2 separate regions of the Homo sapiens genome follow, and region 2 is linked to region 1. The links come from fine-mapping of genetic effects on gene expression. A gene starts in region 1. The other region holds a variant in brackets. All regions are shown on one strand. Distances are from middle to middle.

The links.
Region 2: its variant is fine-mapped to the expression of SIL1 in stomach (GTEx, PIP 0.98).

Annotation. Positions count from the first base shown.
Region 1 is chr5:139,195,053-139,204,016 of GRCh38, reverse strand. SIL1 (SIL1 nucleotide exchange factor) reads left to right here and starts at 5,649. Exons shown (of 10, transcript NM_022464.5): 1 at 5,649-5,748. RefSeq lists a silencer at 5,444-5,973.
Region 2 is chr5:138,942,373-138,951,290 of GRCh38, reverse strand. It overlaps SIL1 (SIL1 nucleotide exchange factor), which reads left to right. Exons shown (of 10, transcript NM_022464.5): 9 at 1-120; 10 at 3,818-4,567. The coding sequence ends at 4,174. Among named protein-coding and RNA genes, the nearest start is that of LRRTM2, 71 kb to the right of the region's middle. RefSeq lists an enhancer at 1,578-2,442 and a silencer at 6,882-7,094. The variant A/CA (reference allele first, on the strand shown) is at 4,598.

The DNA of each region.
Region 1 (8,964 bases):
CTGTGTATGGATTCCTGTGATTCTGTGCTTTTGTGGGTGTCTGCAGGCACTGCATTGGTGTCAGGTGTCTGTGTACATTAATAGGTGTGTGGTTGAAGGCGCTTCTGGAGACAGAGTCATGGTTCTTGGGGCTTCGCTTTGGCCTCAGTGGGAAGCTGTTTGGTGAGAACACTTTGAAATCTTGTCTGTCTTCTGGGTCCCTTCTTTTGAGTGTTTTTCCTTTGAACCAGAAAGGCTTGTTTAGCTGAGAGCAAATGCAGCTTAAATTTACTGACCTTCTTCTGGCCTAAGCCCCTTGGAGCTGCCAAAGACTTCCAAGCAGGTGGGAGGCTGCCATCCAGAACCCTCACATCCCTTTCAGAGGGGCTGGAAATGCTTTTTTTTCTCCCCCTTTTCTGCTTCTGAGGCCTTCAGAAATAAGCCAGAGACAGAGAAAAGCACAGTTACTGGAGTCCTTGAAGCCTCTTGGGGTGGAGAGATCTAGAATTCTTGAATGCCAGGAAGAAGCTGCTCAGGTGCTGCTTGGGTCCCACAGTAGAGATCATCTGGTCTCTGCCCTGCCTTGGCCACAGCAGCCCACTCCATCTGAGTGCAGCCCAGGAAGTGGAGGAATCTGGTTCGGGAGCAGTTCTCCTGATTTCCCCTGGAGTGCCCCTTAGCTTCCTGCTTCTTCCATGTTGGCCCCTTGACTTAGCTTTTCTGGGAATGCTGAGTGCTCTGGCTTCACACCCCTGCCGTAGCACTGCCTCTCAGGACCTCTCAAGCACTGTTAGACAATAGAGCTTTTTTTTTTTTCTGAGATGGAGTTTCGCTCTTGTTGCCCAGGTTGGAGTGCAACAGCGTGATCTCGGCTTGCCGCAACCTCTGCTTCCCAGGTTCAAGTGATTCTCCTGCCTCAGCCTCCCGAGTAGCTGGGATTACAGGCATGCGCCACCATGCCCAGCTAATTTTTGTATTTTTAGTAGACAGGGGGTTTCTCCATGTTGGTCAGGCTGGTCTCAAACTCCCGACCTCAGGTGATCTGCCTGCCTCGGCCTCCCAAAGTGCTGGGATTACAGGCGTTAGCCACCGTGCCCGGCCACAATAGAGCTTTTTCATAGAAATGTTCCATCATTTTTGTTGTCCAGTATAGTGGACTGAGCATTTGAAATGTGGCTAGTGTAAATAAGAAACTGTATTTTAACTTTTATTTAATTTTAATTAAATCTAAACAACATGCGGCAATTGGCTACCATATTGGACAACACAGCTCTGAAGAGTTCAGTGGGAAGAGTTTTTGTTCATCTGCAAAATAAATCTGCCCCACCTACCTCACAGAGGTGTCTGGAACAAACAAGGTGATAAATGTGAAAGGGCTTTACTCACAAAAGGGATCTGAAAAGACAGCAGTGTGAACCTCTGGAGTGCAGTGGTGCAATCTTAGCTCACTGAAACCACCTCCCAGGCTCAAGTGATCCTCCCACTTCAGCCTCCCAAGTAGCTGGGACCACAGGCATGTGCCACCATGCCCAGCTAATTATTTTATTTTTTTATTTTATTTTTGGTAGAGATGGGTTTTGTCATGTTGCCCAGGCTGGTCTCGAACTCCTGAGCTCAAGTGATCCGCCTGCCTTGGCTCCCAAAGTGCTAGGATTATAGGCGTGAGCCACTGCACCTAGCCCGTTAATATTTCTGTTAAATGGTGCTTGCCAGGCTGTTTTGATCTGTTTACATTTCTGTGTCTCTCATTTGACCCTGAGCTCTTCGAGGGTAAGAACCAGTAGGACTGTTTCACAGTTGTACCCCCACAGCCAATGGCTGGCATGTAGCTTGGTGCTCATGTTCAAGTGAATAAAATGTCTGCAGTCCAGAAGGGACTCCTGGCAGCAGGATCTGAGTTGTGTGGTGAAAGCTGGGTGGGCAAAGAGGAAGGGGCCGAGGGGAGGAGGCAGATCAATACAGTGGTGAGACAAAGTGAGGGCTCCTGCTCCCCACTCAACATTTGAGGCCCATCCAGAGAGAGCAGGGAGCCAACTCCTGAAGCCAGGAATACTTTCACACAACAGGGTGTGAGGCTTGTGGGAGATTAATTGAGAAAGGCTGATCAGAGGAGAAATGATCTACTCAACATATTCTGCTTGTTGAGGAAGGCCAAATTGATTATAAATCTCCGCCTAGCCAGGGCTCTGGGGGTAGGTGCTGTGGTTTCCTTTGATTTGATTGATGGTGGCCGGGTTGAAGGTGATTCCTCAGTCTCTCTACCCTTCCAAGCCTTCCTTTGCTCTTCTGGGGAGTGGAAGAGGGATTCTAGAAACTCCCCAACAGAACTGCAAGAGAGAGGTGGTTTTTAGCCTGTTGTTTACTTATTTAAAAGGATTTTTTTTTTTTTTGAGATAGAGTCTTGCTCTGTCGCCCAGGTTGGAGTGTAGTGGCGTGATCTTGGCTCACTACAACATCCACCTCCCAGGTTCAAGCAATTCTCCCTGCCTCAGGCTCCTGAGTAGCTGGGATTACAGGCGCCCACCACCATGGTTTGCTAATTTTTGTATTTTTTAGTAGAGACGGGGTTTTGCCATGTTGACCAGGCTGGTCTTCAACTCCTGACCTCAGGTGATCCGCCTGCCTCAGCGTCCCAAAGTGCTGAGATTACAGGCGTGAGCCACTGCGCCCAGCCTAAAAGGAAATTTTAAACTTACTTTTGCTCAATTCCAAGACTTATATAAGGAAACAAAGAGAGGAGACTACCAAAATTCCAGCACCCACTGTGATCACTGGACTTGCACCCAAACTTCTCACCTTTACAGTGGGCCTCCTTGCTTAAGGCCGTGTAAGTAGAGGCTGTCTGCTTAGGTTCAACCTTGCACACTGGCTTCAGCAACTCAAGAGGCTTGATTTCAGAGCAAGTTCAGAGCAAGTTCCTCTGAGAAGGTAGTTCTGTCAGGGTATGTCTTTGTCTGTTGGGACTACTATAACAAACACCTTAGGCTGGGTAATTTACAAACAGAAATTTACTGCTCACTGTTCTACAGACCAGGAAATCCAAGATCAAGGTGCCAACAGATTTAGGGGCTGGTGAGTGCTTGCTCTCTATTTCAAAGATGGTGCCTTGCTGCCTTGCTTCACATGGTGGAAGGGGAGATCACTGTGTCCTTCCACGGCAGAAGGGGCAAGGCAGCTCCCTTCAACCTGACCATTTTTATTTTATTTTATTTTTTTGAGATGGAGTCTTGCTCTGTCGCCAGGCTGGAGTGCAGTGGTGCGATATTGGCTCACTGCAACCTCCACCTCCCAGGTTCAAGCGATTGTCCTGCCTCAGCCTCCTGAGTAGCTGGGACTACAGGTGCACACCACCAAACCCAGCTAATTTTTGTATTTTTAGTAGAGATGGGGTTTCACCATGTTGGCTAGGATGGTCTCAATCTCTTGACCTTGTGATCCGCCTGCCTCGGCCTACCAAAGTGCTGGGATTACAGGCGGAAGCCACCATGCCTGGCCCAACCTGCCCACCTTTTAATACTATCACATTGGATATGAGGTTCCAATGTATGAATTTAGGGGAGACACCAACATTCAGACCATGGCAGAGCTTTTCAAGGTTTGGAGACCAGGCCTGGGGTGGCAGTGGGAGACAGACTATCCCTTTCCTACCACATACCTGAGCTGGTTAGATCCGTCCCAAGGAGAAAGGCCCCGCTTTGAGCGCTGGCAGCTGTGTTCAGCTGGACTCTTCTCTTGGCCCAAGCATTCATTTATTCATGCTATTATAAGATTTGAGCTTATTCTATTTTTAAGGCTCTTACTCTTGTAGCACTTTATTAACATCTTTTTTATAACTCGTGCCAGTCTTATTATAATTTATATGTTCATTCTCTAATTTATCACTCATGAAATATTTGTTGAATATTTATTATCTGTACTTATGGTACTAGGCAGTGACATAAGCTAGAATTATTCTTAGGCCCAGTTCTTCTCACTGGTCTCCTGGGTGTTCCAGGGGAAAAGTGAGCTGTTCTCTTTCCAAATCAGGCCCTAGGTGTTTTATCTAGACCTTTCTCATAAACTGGCACTATTCACTGAACTACTGCCCAGGGGCTTGTTCTCCCTTCCCATACTAGTAACCAAGGTTTGCTCAGTGGCTATGAAGTCAGTTTCCCATCTGCTTGAAGTAAACATAATCAAGAAGGTAAATTGTCTGCTAGAAGCTCATAGAGTACATGGAAAAGGGAAGGGAAGTCCAGAAATAGGTTGTTTGCTATTGGGAAATACTTGCCATTTGGGGAGGTAACTGTCTGGATTACTGTTTTCTCCACTCATGAATGACCAGGAATCACTATGTGGGGGATCTGAGGGCAGGAGGGGGCAGTCATTTTTATTCATCAGGTTAAGCATGTCTAGGCAAGGGGAAGGTCTAAAAGTGGAATAGTGGAAAGAGAACAGGACATTGGAGACACTTAAATCTAGCTTTAACTCCCAGTTCTACCACTTCCTGACTGTATGACTTTGTATAACTCCTTTAGCCTCTTTGAGCGTCAGCTTCTCCATTTATAAAAAGGGGATGACCATTCTGCTCAGAGGACGTTATAAGTAAATAAAATATATATGCAGCACCTGGTACAGAAAGCATGATATTCACTGGTACAGCAGAATTACAACTGCGTTGACACCAGCCTGGGCAACATAGCGAGACCCTGTCTGTAAAAAAAAAAAAAAAAAAAAAATTAGCCTGGCAACGGTGGCACGCGCCTGTGGTCCCAGCTACTGGATGGAGGCTGAGGGGGAGGATCCCTTGAGCCTGGGAGGTCAAGGCTGTGATAAGCCAAGATCCTGCCACTGCACTCCAGCCTGGGGGACACAGATTCTGTCTTAAAAAAAAATCAGAATCGCAAGTGACCTTTATTTTATTTTATTAGATTTTGAGACAGAGTTTCACTCTGTCACCCAGGCTGGAGTGTAGTGGCACGATTTTAGCTCACTGCAACCTCTGCCTGGTGGGTTCAAGCGATTCTCCTGCCTCAGCCTCCCAAGTAGCTGGGATTACAGGCGCTCGCCACCACGCCTGGCTAATTTTTGTATATTTAGTAGAGACGGGGGTTTCACCATGTTGGTCAGGCTGGTCTTGAACTCCTGGCCTCAAGTGATCTGCCTGCCTGGGCCTCCCAAAGTGCTGGGATTACAGGTGTGAGCCACCGCGCCCGGCCACCTGATGCTATTTTTAAAATAACTGGTCCTTGTAAAAAATCTACACAAGTATATAAAGTGAGTGGCTTAAAGGTGTCCTATTTTGCATGAATTTGCGAGAAATTTTATTGCTGGAGACTCTCGGCTTCTGTCCCAAACTGAGTCACAAGAACTTGATTTATTTTTACTCCGCACCCCTCTGATTGCTTTCTGAGGGTCCTTCCGCTAGAAAGAAATTACATTGTTGGAAAATCAGACAGGAAACTTCGCAGTTCCAGCCTGGAAGCAAAAGCAGGCGTGAAGCTATCTCTTCAGCCCTCCCTCCCCCCAAGGGGAGGGGCACGGGGGCAGCTCGTGCAAGAGTCTGCAGAGGGCGGGGCTAGGGGCGGGGCTCCCACCTCGGTGCGGGGCGGGGGGCGCCGCGCGCTGGTCTGGCGGCCCGCGATTGGGCGAGGCCGCGAGCGGCGTGACAGCTGCCAGCTCACCGGCTCAGACGGTCGCCGCCGCGTTTGCGCAGGGGGAGCTGGTCGCCGCCGCGGCCGCCTGGAATTGTGGGAGTTGTGTCTGCCACTCGGCTGCCGGAGGCCGAAGGTAGGGGCGGTGAGGGCCGCCCGGCCCTGGAGCTGGGCGGGGGGCTCAGGGCGCTTCCTGGGCCTCCTCCTGCCGGCGGCCTCGGCGCCTTCCCAGCAGTGTTCTGGGGACCCACACATCCTCACTAGTGTCTCCAAAGCGGGACGTCCAAGTGGGCCCGGGGCTCCCTGCCGAAGGCCTACCTTTCTTATCTTTCCCACTCAGAATGTCTCCATTCACCTCTTTATTGGCAGGAGATGGGGCCGTGGAAATTTGAGATTGGCTTTGGCTCCGCACCTGTTTTTAGTGCCCTTGCCTGTTTCATTCTCCCAGCCTAAGTTTCCGTATCTGTCCGAAGAAGGGGTGGTTTGGTGTTGATCTCCGAGACCCGTGTGTCTCTTCCCATGTGGAATTATTGTCACTCTCTTATTGCTTGTTTTTCTTTGTCCTGGAAAATTTGCCTTTAGAGGTTACAGACTGGTTAGTGTTATCTCTCGGATCGTCTAGGGGCTTTGTGCATAAGCCTTGGGCTCCATTCCCTGGGATTTCCGATAAGATGGTGCGTGGGCAGCTGTACCCCAGGGGGTTCTCATTCAGGTGGTCCCGGAATCCTGGCTTTGAAAATCCCTGCTTCAGAAGTCAGGAGAGAATGACTTGACATATGAGCCCCTGGAATGGGGCTCTGAGTGGGAAAAGCCAGGAATCAGGAAATGCTAACACGTGTGAGGCTGGGGCTTTCTTTGCACCGGAGGAATTAGAATGCCATTTGATGTCTTTTAAAAATATTTGACTACCTATATATGTAAGATCAGTTTTCTAATATTCTTAAATGCCTGGCTTCGTTTAAAGTTCAGTTGGCTTTCCCACCTCAATAAACCTAAATAAAAACATGATCTGAGAGATGGGGCGGGGGTTAAGTTAACCCAAACTAAGTAGACAGGAGGAGAATGAAACTTACATATTTGCTAAGAGAAGAAAGTGATGTGTTTATAAACAGTTTTTTTTTTTTTTTTTTTTTTTTGAGGCGGAGTTTCGCTCTTGTTTCTCAGGCTGGAGTGCAATGGTGCCATCTCGACTCACAGCAACCTCCGCCTCCCAGGTTCAAGCGATTCTCCTGCCTCACCTTCCCGATTAGCAGGGATTACAGGCATGCGCCATCGTGCCCGGCTAATTTTCTATTTTTAATAGAGACAGGGTTTCTCCATGTTGATCAGGCTGGTCTCGAACTCCTGACCTCAGGTGATCTGTCTACCTCGGCCTCCCAAAGTGCTGGGATTACAGGCATGAGCCACCTCGCCTGGCATATAAACAGGTTTTTTTTTGACATTGTGAAAGATATTTTGTTGTGTGTGTGTGTCTTTTCTGCTCTCACCCCACCCAAGTTTTTTTCTTTTCTGATAAAAGTATAGCCAGATTTGGGGATTGGGTAGGATTTTGATGGGAGCCAGAGTGTAACGATATTGGGATTGATATTTGTATAACATGGGTCAGAACTTGGTCTGTGGTTTTGAGAACATGGCTCTCGGGTTTTTAAGATGGTGTTACCACACCACATTTATTTCCCCTTTCTTTCATTTGTTTAGTGAATTTAATCTGCTCATGAATACATGTGCTGTTTTAATGAAATTGGCAATAGAAGAGACGTTCTGCTCCCATTTTACAGGTGATGGAAATGTTAGTAGGGATGCGGCAGTCCAGGAATGAAAAGTTGCCTAGTACTTTGATTCCCACTTACTTCCCCTTCCCTGCTGTTTTCTGAAGGCCAGCTATTACTTCTCTACTGAGGCCAACTGTGAGCCCTGGTGTGTTTCATTGGCAGGAGAAGAGGCTAATTAAGTGAAACTGAAAGGTAACAAAATGGATTTTAAAATAACTGACATGTGGGAACTTGATCCACCAATGAATGTTCTCCTTTAGAGTGATGTGTGCAGGTGTAGGTGGTGGGAGTTGAGGATGGCGTGCCTAAGTGATTTGGCTGTTGTCCAAGGCAGTTTTGAAAATCCACCTCTGGAATTGTTTTCAGAGACCTTTTTGAACCATGCGAGAGATCAGTTTCTTTAATATATTAAACCATACTGTATTATTATTATTATTATTTTTCAGATGGGGTCTCACACTGTGGTTCAGGCCGGAGTGCAGTGGCATAATCATAGCTCACTGCAACCTTGAACTCCTGGGCTTAAGTAATACTCTCACTAAAGCCTCCTGAGTAGTTGGGACTACAGGGGCGCACCACCAGGCCCAGCTAATTTTGTAATTTTAATTTTTGTAGAGACAGGGTCTCGCTGTGTTGCCCAGGCTGTTTTTGAATTCCTGGCCTCAAGCGATTCTTCTGTCTTGGCCTCCTAAAATGTTGAGATTACAGGCGTGAGCCACTGCACACAGCCTATATATATTTAACCCCGAATGGCATGGGTAAGCAACCTTGTCACCTGCCTTGTCTTCAGATGAGTTAACAGTTCTTTTGAAGTGGAAATAACAGATTTTTGGAGGGTGGTGAACATGAGTTTTAATTCTGAGTCTACCACTTATTAGCCACATAACCTTGGATAAGTTACTTCACCTCTGGGGCTCAATGTACCACTACATAACAGTGGGAATAGGGCCGGGCATGGTGGCTCACGCCTGTAATCCCAGCACTTTGGGAGGCCAAGGTGGGCGGATCACGAGGTCAGGAGATCGAGACCATCCTGGCTAACACGGTGAAACCCCGTCTCTACTAAAAATACAAAAAATTACCCGGGCGAGGTGGTGGGTGCCTGTAGTCCCAGCTACTCAGGAGGCTGAGGCAGGAGAATGGCGTGAACCTGGGAAGCGGAGCTTGCAGTGAGCGGAGATCACGCCATTCACTCCAGCCTGGGCGACAGAGCGAGACTCCGTCTCAAAACAAAACAAAACAAAACAAAAAAAACTGGGAATAATATTTACTTTGAAGGGTGGTTAAATGACGTATTACACATGAAAGCTCTTGGGACATAGGAATGCAATAAATGTTTTCACCCTCAAAGAATGAAGATTTGCCGTTAATGAGAATATTCAAAAGAACATGAGAGTCTCTGGCCGGGTGCGGTGGCTCACACCTGTAATCCCAGCACTTTGGGAGGCTGAGGTGGGTGGATCACCTGAGGTCGGGAGTTCAAGACCAGCCTGACCAACATGGAGAAACCCCGTCTCTACTAAAAATGCAAAATTAGCCGGGCGTGGTGGCGCATGCCTGTAATCCCAGCTACTCGGGAG
Region 2 (8,918 bases), 250 kb after region 1:
CAGCGGCAGTTCCTGAAGCTCGGGGGGCTGCAGGTCCTGAGGACCCTGGTGCAGGAGAAGGGCACGGAGGTGCTCGCCGTGCGCGTGGTCACACTGCTCTACGACCTGGTCACGGAGAAGGTGAGTGCCCAGGCCCACCCAGTCTCCTCTTGTTTGCTTTGTGTGTGCTTCTGGGTGGATGGACAGACAGATGGAAGAGACTGCGGACGTCACTTGTTTGCTTTGTGTGTGCTTCTGGATGGATGGACAGACAGACAGTTGGAAGAGATTGGGGACGTCAGGGAGTATGTCATGTGAGATGTGGTGGCTAAGCTGAAACCTGAGGGCTGATGAGGAGTGGGAGGTGGCCCTGCCAGCCATGGTCACGGCCAAGTGTGCAGGCAGAGGGCTCAGTATGAGGCAAGCCTTGGAGCAGCCGAGACCAGGCCCCGAGGGGACAAAAGGCTGAGGGGGTAGAACAGCCCAGAGCTCCTTCGAATGGCACTCACTCTTCGGATTCTAGAAACGTGGAGGTGCCTCCTCTGTGAGCTTTGGCTCTGGGCAGGGCCTCAGAGTGGCTGCCCTTGAGAGTCTCAGGGACCCAATTGCTTGCCACTTGGGAGGAGACTTGGTGCCCAGCCCTGTTTGCAAGCTTGAAGAAGCATCTTAATTAAGGAGGAGAGAGGAAAACCAGCCAGGCCTGGATTCTTAATTCAGCTACTGCAGAGAGCATTGGCAGGGCTTCCTCAGTTGCCTCTCTCGGGCCACACGCTCCCCAGAAGAGCCGCATGCCGACTAGTGGAGCAGGGCTGGGCAGCCGCTGGAACTGCTGCCGAATGGTGGAGGCTGGGCCCCTCACTCCCTCTGCACACGCCTCCCCCAGGCCTTCTCTCCCAGGCAGTGTCGGGATGGCTGTGGCCACCTCTGTCCATCACTGTCTCTCCCCAACTCTCTGTCTTTGCCTGTTTCTCTCTCTTCTCTTGTTAAAGCTGCAGAAATCCAGTTTCTTAGAACAGCAGGCAGCCATGTGGTGCTCAGATCCAATTGATAAGGCCTGGGCACAGTTCAGGTTCTGGGACTGGGCCAGTGAGCCTGGAGAAGGACATGTCAGCTGGCTGGGCATTTCCCAGGGAAACTGGGCTCTGTTCTCTGGTGTCTTGGGTGTGTGTCCCTGCTGCCCCCAGCCCTGGCATCCTGGGCACTATGGCACTGACACATTGCTAGCACACTACCACCAGGCAGGCTCACCAAGGCTGCCCCGAGGCTGCCGGCCCCGGGAGCCTGCCTCTGGAAGCTTTGGGGTGCTGACATGATTGGGGAGGGGAGGACTGGCATCTCTCTACAAACAGTACAGAAATGGCCCTCTTCTTTCAGGGAGGACAGCAGATAAATTTCAGCCAGAGAGATTTAGGACACACTGTACTTGGGCTGAGGCAGTCAGGGCTTCTCTGTTCTTGTGATTTCTTTTTTCTTTTTTCTTTTCTTTTCTTTTTTCTTTTTTTTTTTTTTTTTTGAGACAGGGTCTCTCTCTGTCACCCAGTGGCACGATCTTGGCTCACTGTAAACTCTGCCTCCCAGACTCAAGTGATCCTCCCACCTCAGCCCCCTGAGTAGCTGGGACTACAGGTCCATGCCACCATGCCTGGTTAATTTTGTTCGTTTTTTGTAGACAGGGTCTCACTATGTTGCTCAGGCTGGTCTTGAACTCCTGGGCTCAAGCAGTCCTGCCTCAGCTTCCCAAAGTATTGGAATTATAGGCGTGAGTCACTAAGTCCAGCCTCTTGCAGCGCTTAAGAATGAAGACCTAGCCAAGCTAGGGGTGGGTCCAGAGCTGCCTGAAGGTGGAGGGACATGAGCTGTCCACCACGATGGAGGGGTGCCATGCAGCTCGGGGATCACTGCAGCATGTTGTCATGACAGCCAAGGACTGTGGAATTCCCATGGGCAATGTGACACCCCCATCAGGGTGCTGGGGTCTGCCAGGCCCCAGGCAGTCCTCATATGTACCTTGGCCTGTGAGAGGACCTCTACTGAGAGACCATGCCCTGACATCTGGGCTTCTGCAGTGGTGAGATGCCTGCCTGGGGTTTGGATTCCATGGCCTCTGGTGCATCTGAGGAGCTGAAGGGCCGCAGGGGGACCCTGCCTGCCTGTGCTGCCTGCTGTGCCGGGTGCTGGGAAAATAATCCGCAGTCCCTGTCGTCCCTGAGCTTTCAGGCAGATGTTTATCAGAGAATTCCCCTGAGCTTGTGTTGTAGTCTGTCTGCTGCTGCTTTAACAGAATACCCGGGACTGGATAATATAAAGAAAAGGCAGTTTTTGGCTCATGATTCGGGAGGCTGGGAAATCCACGATTGGGTGGGTGCATCTGGCGGGAGCCTTTGTGTTGCATGACAACATTGTGGAAGGTGAGAGGGCAAGAGCACTTGCGGAAAAAAGCATGCTGGGCCGGGCTTGCTCTCTAGAATAACAACCGCTCTCCCGTAAGGAACCCGCTGCCCTCCTGACCTAGGCAGCTCCTCTCAATACTGCTGCCTTGGGAATTAAGCTTCCAACACTTGAACTTTTAGGGAACACACTCAAACCACAGCAGCATATAAGCAGAGAAGGCCAGTCAGGGGAGGCCGGTCAGTGGCGGTGAGGTGTGCAGGGAGCCGTGGAGTGAATGGGGCCAATGCGGGGGTGCACCTGGAAGTCGGAGCTGCGCCTCCAGAGGCCCCAGGGGAGAGTTAGAGTGACAGGAGTGGGTGTGAGTGGGTCCAGGCCGCGCACAGTGGGGGCAGAGCCTGCAGAGCCTCGCAGTCCCAGGGAAGGGATTGATTTTGTCTTTATCACCCGCAATGCCAGGCTGTGAGGGTTTGGGGGCTGGAGGAGAGGGTGAGAGCAGGAGGCACTGGATCGCAGGACACAAGGGACAAAGGTGGAGCTGACAGAATTGGGGTGTGTTTTGGAAGCGAAGCTGGCAGGACTGAGGGGTGAAGTAGGAAAGGACTAGGGGATACCTCTCAGCCTCTCCTGTCCCAGGATGCAGGATTGCACCCCTCCTCAGTTTCCTCTGCCAGCCCCAATCAGCCCCACGACTTCCTGCTGCCGCAGGAAGCACAGGTGGTCCACTGTGGCCTCCTCTTCTCCTGGGCTTCCCTCTTGCCTTGTGCATCTTCCCTGTGCTTCATTCTCCCCTGGAGTTAGGGCAGGCATTCCTTCTTTCTCCATACAGGCACACTTCCTACAGCTGCACGGGAGATCTCTGCCCCCTCCCAACCCTCTACCTCTGACCTTCAGGTAACCTGCCTGCTTGTCATGGTTCAGGTGTTGGCTTTCCCGCTGCTGGTAGCCCGGCAGGATTGGCTCCCACCATGTTCTGCTGATAGAGCTGGGCTTCTGCGCTTTACAGACAGGCTGAGTTTCTCCACTTAGGAGGTGATGACGATGAGTCTCAGGGAGGCTAAGTGCCAGCCATGGTCATTCAGCAAGTCAGTGGTGGAGCAGGAATTTGAAGCCAGCCTGTCTGCCTCCATGCTGCACTGTTAGATTACATTTATGCTATTTGGGAATTAGTTAATTTTTATTCTCCTGCTAGACCTTAAGCTCCTTGAGGGTAAGACTATGTCTCCATCGTGGTTTCTTCAGCACCTGGCACCACACAAGTGTTTCTGTTGGTGGATGAATGAATGAATAGACAGACAGACTTGGGGATAGAGGAAGAGGTGGGCCCTCAGGGGTCAGCCTCGTGCCTTCCTGTCTGAAGGGCAGAGCTAGCCAGGTGTGAGCTAACTGCTCCCTGTGTGTTCTCTCCCCACCCCCACCCTACCTGGCCTGCGGCTGTGGCGGATGGCAGATGTTCGCCGAGGAGGAGGCTGAGCTGACCCAGGAGATGTCCCCAGAGAAGCTGCAGCAGTATCGCCAGGTACACCTCCTGCCAGGCCTGTGGGAACAGGGCTGGTGCGAGATCACGGCCCACCTCCTGGCGCTGCCCGAGCATGATGCCCGTGAGAAGGTGCTGCAGACACTGGGCGTCCTCCTGACCACCTGCCGGGACCGCTACCGTCAGGACCCCCAGCTCGGCAGGACACTGGCCAGCCTGCAGGCTGAGTACCAGGTGCTGGCCAGCCTGGAGCTGCAGGATGGTGAGGACGAGGGCTACTTCCAGGAGCTGCTGGGCTCTGTCAACAGCTTGCTGAAGGAGCTGAGATGAGGCCCCACACCAGGACTGGACTGGGATGCCGCTAGTGAGGCTGAGGGGTGCCAGCGTGGGTGGGCTTCTCAGGCAGGAGGACATCTTGGCAGTGCTGGCTTGGCCATTAAATGGAAACCTGAAGGCCATCCTCTTTCTGCTGTGTGTCTGTGTAGACTGGGCACAGCCCTGTGGCCGGGGGGTCAGGTGAGTGGTTGGGTGATGGGCTCTGCTGACGTGCAGGGCTCAGCCCAGGGCATCCAGGAACAGGCTCCAGGGCAGGAACCTGGGCCCAGGAGTTGCAAGTCTCTGCTTCTTACCAAGCAGCAGCTCTGTACCTTGGGAAGTCGCTTAATTGCTCTGAGCTTGTTTCCTCATCTGTCAGGAGTGCCATTAAAGGAGAAAAATCACGTAGAAAGCTTCACACTAGTGCTGGCACCCCCC[A/CA]GCTGTGAGGTAAGGCAGGGAATCATCTCACTGCCCCTCTATCGGTGCCCACATAACAGCCTCAAGGCCGCTGACCTGGCCGGCGCCTGAGGCCTGTCCATACACTGGTGCTGTGGTGACCCAGGCAGCTGATGGGCTTGACAGCTGCTGGAGTGATGGGTGCTGGAGCAATGGGTGCCGGGGTGGGGTGCTGAGAGGTGCTGGACTCTGGAGGCCCAGGGGCCAGGCCTTACTCTGGGAGAAAGCTGGCAGTGGGAGCCCAGGGGAGCCCAGGCCTGCCTGGCCCACCTGACAGGGGAGAAGTGCCTCTCTGTGGCCTTGCACCACTTCTGTGTCCAAGCAGAAACAGGGCCAAGCCCAAGGAGGAGGCCTCAGAGCTGGGAGCAGCCGTGCCTGGCGAGTCCCGGCCCCTACCCAGGCTGGCGGAGTCCCGGGCTGGAGCTGGCTGCAGGTTGCCATGGCAACCCGGGCTCTGGGCTTTTCAGACTCGGATTCTGGTGTGTTTGTTTCTCAGCTTTCCCAGTGCACCAGAGGCTTGCTCTTGCGGGCCCAGGCAGCCCCTCCGGCCCCCAGGTGGTAAAGTCGGGAGGGCCAGTCTGGGGCAGGACTCTCCTCTCCCTGGCTCTAGGCCTCACTTGTAGAAATCTCAGTTTTACTGAGCTGAGGGCAAATTGAGGCCCAGAAAAACATGGGGTCAGTAGTTGGCCTTCCCTGCAGTCCCTTTGCTTGGCCACCTGGCTCTTCTCCTCAGCCCCTCTCCTGCTCGCCTCTTGCCGCAACACGACACGCAGGAAGCTCGGAGCAGAGCCACGGCCTGCACGGAGCCCCTCCCAGCAGGGCAGGCTGGAGGCAGGAGTCCAGGCTGATGCTGGAGTAACAGCTTCCCCAGGGCGGGAGGCCTCAGGGCTAGGGCAGAGTGGGGAACAGACTCGCAGTCTGCCAGCCATTGGGTACCTGCTGCCTTTACAGCCTCGCAGGAGTCTTCGAAGTAGATTTTACAGATGAGGAAATCATGGCTCAGAGAGGCCAAGTGATCTGCCTGTGGGGGCAGCAGTGGGCCTGCGGTGCTGATGGTGCTGTGGGAGGCTTGAATGGGAGGCCAAGAAGGGGACGATGTTGAACTGACAGGCAGCGGAGGGAGGACCACGAGAAATGGCCGGGCATGTGTGGCCACAACAGGGCAGGCAGGTTTCAGACAGGAGGTGCCAGCGCCTGGATGAGGCCAAGGTCAAGGGGTGCTTTAGAGGTAGTGTTGGAAGATCTAGCGTAGACTTGAGAAAGGGGCAAGGTGAGGTTTGATGGGGAGAGGGGCTGCCTCAGCAGAGGCTTGGAAGACAGGAGGACTTGGGGCTGGGCTGGGGATGAATCTATTCTAGGCTTTCAGCATTCAGAGGTGAGCACCAAGGCTGGACAGTGGGAACAGTGGACAGGCGAGAGTGTGGGGCCTTGTGGGGAGGCCAGGCCGGGCGCTCGGCTGTGTCAGGACCAGGCTGGCCCTGGAGGCCTCTGTGACCACCAGGGTCTGGCCCGGGGTGTGGAAAGCGTCCCTATGGGAGGAGTGCCACTAGTAGGGGCCTAACTGCAGTCCCCAGTGTCCCCTCTGCCCCCAGGTGTGCTGCCCTCAGCAGCGATTCTGTAAAGCAGAGGGAGGCTTTGGGCCAGGTGCTCTTGAGAGGATTTCTGGGAGCGAGGATGGAGGAACGGGCACCTGGGGGCTGTAGGGAGGGGGCTGGACCAGCGCCAGGCTGCTGAGCCCGAGGCCTGGGAGGTGGGACTGCGTGCACTCTGCCCTCACACACTCAGAGCATCGGAATGGGAGTTGGGCTGCAGTCTCTCTCCTCATTGGCCGCATCCAGGTTCGTTCTGGACTGTTAAGCAGACCCTCCAGGGAGAGGGTGGCGAGGCGCCCCAGGGTCTGGGCTTGGGCTGCTTGGGGGTGGGTTCTGGCTCCGCCTCCTGATTCATCGCGGCTTGTTGTCTGCAGGTCAGGAAGGAACCCCTTCTCTGCCTTCCCTTTGGCTGCCATCCTGGGAACTGTGGTCAAGGAGTGTGACCGGGGCTCGAAGTGAGGCAGGGAGTGGTGACGGGGGAGGTGGGACTTCCTCCTGTGGGGCTGGAGCCTGCTTTCCTGTCCTCACTGTCTTGGGATGGGCTGAGAGGTGTGCTGGGCTGACACCCACAGGCCCTCAGTGATTATTGGGTCCCTGCTCCTGGGCTGGGCTGACCCGGGCCCTAGTGTGGGAGGATGGCAGGGAGGGTGGTGGGCCTAGGTCCTCACCCCATCCCTCAGCAGCTGTGGTTTTATGAGTTCACTTGTTCATTCATTATTTCATTCACACTGTGGCTGTTGAGCAGTCGTGTGTGTCAGGCAGTTGGAGCTGAGAAGTCTGCTGAGCTGGGTGAAGCCAAGGAAAGGCCTCCCAGAGCTGGTGATGGCCAGGCTAAGCCCTGCAGGCTGCAGGAGTAGCAGTCAGGGATGGGCAGTTGGAAGGGCCAGTCTGGGGCAGGCAGGGCAAGGGCTCTGGCCCTGGGAAGATACAGGAAGGCCAGAGAGTGGCCATTTGCAGAATCCACAATTTCGGGTCCTCCGGCAGCTTGTCAGCCCTGCCAAGGGCTGTGCCCTCATCCTAGCAGGTGTTCTCTGGGCTGCTGCTTATTCATTCATTTGTTCAACAAATCTGGTTGGGTACTACGAGCCAGGCACTGTTCTAGGGCAGGAAGTGGTAGGACAGGAGGGGAGAGGGCTGGACCATGATAAATACACATGCTTCAGGGGAGGGCCAGGCAAGGAAGACAGAGCCCAGTGGGAAGGGAAGAGGGGTAGGCACTGCTGTTTCCCCTCAGTGGTGGGGAAGGCCTCTGAGGAGGGGCCAGGCACAGGAGCGCAGCAGTGAGCCATGGGGGTGCTTTGTAGACAAGGGGATAGCAGAGGCAAAGGTCCTGCAGGAACAGGCCAAAGCACTTCAGGAAAAGCCATGAGAACCAGGCCTGGAGCAGGCAGAGACCGAGGGAGGAGTTGCAAGGGAGGGCCGCCTGGGGAGGCTGTGGAAGGGACCTGGGATTTTCTTTGAGGTGGGGCTGTTGAGAGTTGGGTGCAGAGGAGAGACCTGATGTAACCCACCTTTTTCTTTTTGAGACAGGGTCTTGTTCTGTCACTCAGGCTAGAATGCAGTGGTGTGACCATGGCTCACTGCAGCCTTGACCTGCTAGGCTCAAGTGGTCCTCCCACCTCAGCCTCCAAAGTAGCTGGGACCACAGGTGCAAGCTGTCACGCCCAGCTAATTTTTTTCATTTTTTTGTAGAGGTCTCCCTATGTTTTCCAGGCTTGTCTTGAGCTCCTGGGCTCAAGCGATCCTGCTGCCTCAACCTCCCAAAGTGCTGGGATTACAGGTGTGAGCCCCTGTGCCCGGCCTCACCTTTTCTTACTGTTGTGGTGAGAATAGATGACACAGGGGCCAGGAGGGGCAGGGAGCCCAGGGCAGCATCCAGGGGGCAGCTGGACAAGGATGTGGGGCAGGGTGAAGACATAGGACTGTGAGAAGTGTGCAGACTCCAGATGGGGCTGAGGCAGAGCTCAGGGCTCTGCTGGCGGGATGCAGGGTGTGGGGAGAGGAGTCGAGGGGATGGAGCAGATGGGCGTGGGGAGGAGCTGGTACCAGAGTGGGAGCTTGGAGAACAGGGGAGTGACTGGGGCTCTGAGGTGGACCCTGTTGATGTTTATATGGAGATGTCAGCAGGACATCCAGGTGGGGGTGCTGACAGGCAGCAGCAGACAGCCTGGAGCTGAGAGAGAGGCTGGGTGGGGGATACTGACCAGGCCTGGGAACCTCACACAAGGGAGCCGCAGGGTTCAGAATGTGGCCAGCTGGTTGTTAAACACAGCCATTATTAAAACTAAATGATGCAAGTGTACAATTAAGTAACACCAAGAAAGCAAAGGTAATTTTTAAAAACTAGTAAAAGAAGAGCAAATTAAAACCAAAGGAAGCAGAAGAAAAGGAAATAATAAAGAGTGGAAACCAATAAAATTGAAGACAGTAAAACTAAAGAAAATCAATGAAATTAAAAGATGGTCCTTTGAAAAAGAGAGAAGACATAAATCAGCAGCCTCACGGATGAAAACGGGGTGTCACTATAGGCTCTACGAGCATTAAAGGATAGTGAGTAGTGAGTATTATGAACAACTCTAAATAAATACATTGTAAAATCAATTTGACAACTTAGAAGAAATCATGGACCAATTCCTTGAGAAACACGGCCTCTCACTGTATTAGCTTTCTATTGCTGCTATGCTAACAAATTACCATGAGCTTTATGCCTT